Linked DNA regions of Homo sapiens. The protein of the gene in region 2 purifies or fractionates together with the protein of the main gene of each other region. This does not show direct contact. Each region holds a gene or a part of one and is shown on either strand. Other genes may lie near its edges.

Region 1 (3,500 bases), on a different chromosome or scaffold from region 2:
AAGCTCCGCTTCCCGGGTTCATGCCATTCTCCTGCCTCAGCCTCCCGAGTAGCTGGGACCACAGGCGCCCGCCACCGCGCCCGGCTAATTTTTTGTATTTTTAGTAGAGACGGGGTTTCACCTTGTTAGCCAGGATGGTCTCGATCTCCTGACCTCATGATCTACCCGCCTCGGCCTCCCAAAGTGCTGGGATTACAGGCGTGAGCCACCGCGCCCGGCCTTGCATTCTTTACCAAAGTGATTCAATCAGTTGTCTTTTTCTCAGCGTCCATGATAATAGTTTCTTTCTCTCTCTCTCTCTCTCTTTATTATATATTTGTATATGTTTCATTACAGGGATTTATAGTAAAACAAGTGTCTTCCCAACCTGATAATTCATTTTGGATAGGCCTTTCTCGGCCCCAGACTGAGGTACCATGGCTCTGGGAGGATGGATCAACATTCTCTTCTAACTTGTAAGTGTTTGGAGAGACAATGCTTCATCCTTTTTCTCAGAGAGGTTTCCATCTCATCTATGAAAACCTCTGTCGAGCAGCTAAGAACCTGATTTGCTCACCATATATGAGAAAGAGAGGGAGAAAGATATAGAAGAAGAGAAAGAGTGAACTAGGACAAGAGGAGAAAGATGAGGAGGACCTTAGAGTGAAAAAGAGTGAGGCCATCTAGTAGCATCAACACAGATATTCTTCTGGTTTTCTTACTAGGGAGGCATCGACATGTTTGAAGTTGTCCAGGCAAGGAGCAGTCACTGTCAGTCAGTGTAACTCCCCGGTTAAGAGCATGGGTTTTGAAGCCAGGCCTCAGTTTGGGTTAATGATTACCCCACTCACTGATTGTGTGACACTGGGGATAAGTCACTTTTCCTCTCTGAGTCCCATTTTCCATAAACAAGAATAGAAAGGTGCTCTTGGCCAGGTGTGGTGGCTCACACCCGTAATCCCAGCACTTTGGGAGGCCCAGGTGGGCGGATCACTTGAGGTCAGGAGTTTGAGACCAGCCTGACCAACATGGTGAAACCCCACCTCCACTAAAAATTTAGCCGGGTGTGGTGGCATTGCCTGAAATCCCAGCTACTCAGGAGGCTGAGGCAGGAGAATTGCTTGGACCTGGGAGACAGAGGTTGCAGTGAGCTGAGATTGCACCATTGCACTCCAGCCTGGATGACAGAGTGAGACTCCAGTGAGACTCCAACTCAAAAAAAAAAAAAAAAAAAAAGAAAAAAAGAAAGAGTGCTTTCCTCTTAGAATTGTGAGATGGGTATAAAAGTAAAATAATTTAGCACAGTGTCTTGTACATAGTTAATGTGTGAGACTTATTATTAAGTTAAAAAGCAACCACATTTTCACATTTTGCATTTTAGAAAGATATTTTAAACGTATTTCACATTTGCCTGATGATACATTATTCCTTATTATGTGGTTTCTGTCACTGCTGTTGTCATTCATTTGCTTTTTAATATCTGCAGAATATGAAATATGTCTCTTTTAAGTTCTTATTATTAGTGTGTGTGTGCACACCTGTGTGTGTTTTTTCATCTGTCTCAGTAGGAGTACCGTTCAATTTGGTTTTTCAAAGAAAGTAACTTTTGACTTTGTTGACTCTGTCTTTTTATTATTTCTTTCATTAACTTTTATTCTAATCTGTATTACTTCCTTCCATCTAATTTATTTTTATTTTATTTTGTTTTATTTTTTGAGACAGAGTCTCACTCTGTCACCCAGGCTGGAGTGCAATGGCGATCTCGGCTCACTGCCAGCTCCGCCTCCCGGGTTCACGCCATTCTCCTGCCTCAGCCTCCTGAGTAGCTGGGACTACAGGCGCTCACCACCATGCCCGGCTAATTTTTTGTATATTTAGTAGAGACGGGGTTTCACCGTGTTAGCCAGGATGGTCTCGATCTCCTGACCTAATTTATTTGTTTTAAATTTGCTATTCCATCTCAAACTTCTCGTATTGGGTGCTTGCCTCATGAATTTAAGCCTTCCTTTATCTCAAGTATGTAGACTTAAGGCTATAATTTTAATGTATTTTCATTGTCTTTCAGTTCAAAATACTTTCTGATTTCCACTGTGAGCTGCTCTTTGACCCAGGAGTTATTTAGAAATGCATTTCTTAATTTACAAACATATGTGTTTCTGGTTATCTCTTTGTTTTAGGTTTCAGGCTTAGTTCCACTGTGATCAGAGAACATGCTCCACGTGCTTGTAGTTCTGTGATTTTTACGTGCTTCTTCCTCTTTCCATATGAAAAGAATTGTGTTGAAATCTTCCGCTGCGATTCTACTTACAGTTCTGTAAACATTTTATTCGATGTGTTGAAGCCGTGTTATCAGGCACATAAAGATTTAGAATTGTTACTTTTTTTCCCCTTTCTTTCCTCCTTTTTGGACGATTTAACACTTTTTCTTATTCTGTTTTTTTTTTCTGTTCATTTGGAATGTGCTCTTTCATGTCTTTTACATCTCTTTTACTAATCTTTTAGTAGTTGTTCTAGGAATTACACATGTATACTTCACTCATCAAAGACTAACATTAACTGACATTTTTATGTTCTTCCTGACCAATATAAAAATCATAGAGCATTCCTTTACTCTGTTGACTCTCTCCTCAATTTATATGCTATTATATTAATGTATTTATTTTTATTTATTTATTTTTATTTTATCGCCCAGGCTGGAGTGCAGTGGGGCAATCTTGGCCTACTGCAACCTCTGCCTCCTGGGTTCAAGCGATTCTCCCACCTCAGCCTCCTGAGTAGCTGGGACTACAGCTATGCGTCACCAGCTGGGTGTGGTGGTGGACGCCTGTAATCCCAGCTACTCAGAGGTTGAGGCACCAGAATTGCTTCAACCCGGGAGACGGAGGTTGCAGTGAGCCGAGATCGCACCACTGCACTCCAGCCTGGGTGACTGAGCCAGACTCAGTATTAAAAAAAAAAAAAAAGAAAAAGAAAAAAGAAAAAACTAGCCCTTGGGCCGGGCGCGGGGACTCACGCCTATAATCCCAGCACTTTGGGAGGCCGAGGCAGGCGGATCACTTGATCTCTGGAGTTCGATACCAGCCTGGCCAAAATGGTGAAACCCCATCTCTACAAAAAAAAAAAAAAGATATAAAAATTAGACAGACAAGGTGGCGCACAGATTTATGCAGTTAGTATTCATTTCAATTTGCCCACATATTTATGATTTTAGTTGTTTATTTCTTTCTTCCTTTCCAACTGTACATTACAGGTATTTTTTCTTAAGACTGATATTTCCAGTAAGTATAGAATTAGAGGTTTGTTGTTTTTCCTCTCAGCCACTCAAATATATTATTCCACTGTTTTCTATTTTTTACTGTTGTTTTTGAGAGGTCATCTGTTTGAAGGTAATATATGTTTTAAAACTAATGTGTTTACTCAGCACTGAAAAATTCTCAGCCATACTTGCTTCATATTTTGCTTTTCCCCATCTTTTTTCCCTTCTCCTGGAATCCCAGTTACATTCATTACAGACCCATTGA
Region 2 (3,500 bases):
AGTGTCTAGCATTAGATATTGCAGTAGCAACTAGGCGATCAGCCATTTGATTCCCTTCAGTTAAAGGTCCTGGAAGAGGTGTATGAGCCCTAATGTGAGTGATGTAAAAAGGGTGCATTCTACTCCTAAATGCTGTTTGCAATTGGGTAAATAAAGTCATCAGTTGTTCATCTGTATGAAGTCATAACTGAGCATTTTCAATTAATTGTATGGAATGAACCACATAGGAAGAATCAGAAATCACATTAATAGGCATATCAAAAGCAGTCAATACCTCAATTACAGCTAAAGCTCCACTTTTTGAGCTGAAGTATAGGGCGTGTGAAAAACTTTACCTTTTGATCCAGAATAAGAGGCTTTACCATTACAAGACCCATCTGTAAAAACATTCTCAGCACCTTCAGTTGGTTTAAATTTAGTTATTTTGGGGAGAATCCAATTAGTTAATTTCAAAAATTGAAATAATTTCATTTTAGGAAAATGATTATCAAGAATACCCACAAAGTCAGCTAAATGGGTTTGCCAAGTAAGACTATTTATAGAAGCTTGCTGTATTTGTGCCTTTGTGAGAGGGACAATAATTTTTCCAGGATCATATCCATGTAATTTAACAATCCGAATTCTCCCATTTCTTATCATCGTAGCCATTTGATCCAAATAAGGAGTTAGAGTCTGTGAATTAGTATGTGGAAGAAAAAGCCACTGTACAAAGTCTTGCTCTTATACAATAACACCAGTAAGTGAATGCTGAGTTGGAAAAATTAGCAAATCTAGGGTCTTTTTTGGATCTATTCTATTTATTTGAGATTTATGGATTTGCTTTTTGATTAGCTGCAGCTCTGCCTCAGCTTCTTTTGTTAATTGCTGAGGGCTAATGAGACTAGGATCTCCTCTAAGGATAGAAAATAGATTACTCAGGGCATAGGTGGGAATGCCTAGAGCAGGTCATATCCGATTAATGTCCCCTAGTAATTTTTGAAAGTCATTTAATGTTTTCAATTGATCCCTACGTATAGTTACTTTCTGTGGCACAATGGTAGTGTCATTTACTAAGGTCCCCAAGTAGGAGTAAGGAGTAGTAGTCTGAATTTTGTCAGGAGCTATATAATTAAACTGGCATGAGAAATCGAGTTTTGCAAGTGATCATAACATTGGAGTAATATTTCTTGAGTGGGGGCAGCACAAAGTATATTATCCATATAATGAATAATGTAACACTGTGAAAATTTTTTACGAGTAGGTTCAATTGCTTGCCCTTCATAAGTCTGGCAAATTTTTGAACTGTTTCACATGCCTTGTAGCAACACTTTCCAATACAAATGCTTTAGTATGCTGCAGGTTTTTTACTGCAGGAATTGTAAATGCAAACAGTTCACAGCCTTGCTCAGCTAAGGGGATAGTAAAGAAACAGTCTTTTAAATTTATGACTATTAAAGGCCAATTTTTTGGAATCATAGCAGAAGAAGGCAGTCCCGGCTGCAATGTCCCCATAGGTTGTATAACTGAATTAATGGCTCTTAAGTCAGTTAACATTCTGCATTTACCTGATTTTTTCTTAATTACAAAAACTGGAGAATTCCAAGGGGAAAATGTTGAGCTATGTGTCCTTTTTCTAATTGTTCAGCAACTAAGTCCTCTAAAGCCTCCAGTTTCTCTTTACTCAGCAGCCATTGTGCTATCCAAATTGGCTTATCTGTTAACCATTTTAAAGGTATATAGGTTCTGGAGGCTTAACAATGGCCACCATCAAAAATGATATCCTAAACCTTGGTGGGAACTTTGTCTTTCCGCTTGAAGCATTTCCTTCAAAGCTTGCAAATTTTTTCCTAGTCCCATACCAGGGACATACCCCATTTCATGCATCATATGTTGACTTTGAGGGCTGTATAATTATTCTGGAATTAGAACTTGTGATCCCCATTGTTGTAATAAATCTCTTCCCTATAAATTTATAGGTACAGAAGTTATAATTTTTTGTATAGTCCCAGGTTGTCCATTGGGCCCTTCACAATGCAAAATATAACTACTTTGATATACTTTAAGGGCTTTACCAACTCCAACTATGTTAAATTGAGCAGGTTGAATTGACCATGCAGATGGCCAGTGCTGTACAGAAATGATTGAAATGTCCGCTCCTGTATCTACCAAACTTTTAAATTTCTTTCCCTGAATAGTTATTTCACCAGTAGGATGTTTATCAGTAATTTGATTCACCCAATAAGCTGCTTTGCCTTGTTTATTTGTGCTTCCAAATCTTCCTGTTCATTTAATTTCACTTTTCCCCATTTCCACATATGGCATAATCAGGAGCTGTGCTATATGCTCTCCTGGCTCTGCTTTCCAGGGAACAGAAGTAGATATAACAATTTGAATTTCCCCTTTGTAATCTGAATCAATGACTCCTGTTTGTACTTGCACGCCTTTTAAATTTAAACTAGACCTACCTAGAAGTAATCCTACCATCCCCGCTGGCATCATCTGACTGGAGACAGCAACCTTCTTTAACAGTCCCATTACAAAAGGAGAACCTGTTCCATATGGATTAATAGCTTGTTTAAATTCTTTGAGTAATTTAAAAGGAAAAGGCTCAAATGTAGCTATAATATTTCCCTGTTGATCTACGGGGTATATTCTAACAGGGAACTGCTAAGCCTCTATATCACCCTCTCTTCTAACTTGCTGAATTCCTGGCTGAATAGAACTGAGAGTGGTCGCTCGAGGTGCTGCTCAGTCACTGGGGCGACTACTTTTTGCCCAGTGTCCTCTGGAAAAGAAAGATCTGGAGGATCAGGCTACTCTTTTGCTTCGAAATAATGAGGGGGTGCAGAAGGGTAGGGACAAACCTCTCCCTCCTTTGCCACTTTAGCTTTAGCTGGCAAACAAACCTGCTCTGTCACCTCTTCTGTTACTTCATTATACTTTCCTTCCTCCTCATCTTTAGTGTGAAAAGGTTCCAAGGTGGAATGAGCTAGAGCCCACACTTGCCCATTGTTACCCTGATGCTTCCGAGCTCCCCTTCTTACTCACCATGGGGATTGCTTAAGAGTACTCGGGTATCCTCCAGCTTTGTTCCACGTTTTCCAACCATTGCTCCAGCGAGCCTTCATCCTGGGTTTGAGTCCCCACGTTGGGCGCCACTTGCCGAGACCAGCTCGGTCGTGGAGACCCTAACCCAGCAGTGCTAGAGGAATTAAAGACACACACACAGAAACATAGAGTGTGGAGTGGGAAATCAGGGGATTCACAGCCTTCAGAGCTGAGAGCCCTGAACAGAGATTTACCCACGTATTTATTGACAGCAAGCCGGTGATAAGCATTATTTCTGTAGATTATAGATTAACTAAAAGTATTCCTTACAGGAAACAAAGGGATGGGCCAAAACAAAGCGATGGGCTCTGGCTAGATATCTGCAGCAGGAACACGTCCTTAAGGCACAGATCGCTCATGCTATTGTTTGTGGCTTAGGAATGCCTTAAGTGGTTTTCCATCTTGGGTGGACC

Evidence for each region. Proteins that work in one complex are often made in the same cells at the same time.
Region 1: the proteins of TLR2 (region 2) and CLEC7A purify together in Homo sapiens (affinity purification with western blotting, with the first as the bait; one study listed by BioGRID). This does not show direct contact.

Annotation. Positions count from the first base shown.
Region 1 is NC_000012.12:10,120,200-10,123,699, reverse strand, and holds part of CLEC7A (C-type lectin domain family 7 member A), read left to right. Parts: intron 1-336; coding exon 337-455; intron 456-3,500.
Region 2 is NC_000004.12:153,690,780-153,694,279, forward strand, and holds part of TLR2 (toll-like receptor 2 precursor), read left to right. Parts: intron 1-3,500. UniProt on the Homo sapiens protein: Cooperates with LY96 to mediate the innate immune response to bacterial lipoproteins and other microbial cell wall components. Cooperates with TLR1 or TLR6 to mediate the innate immune response to bacterial lipoproteins or lipopeptides.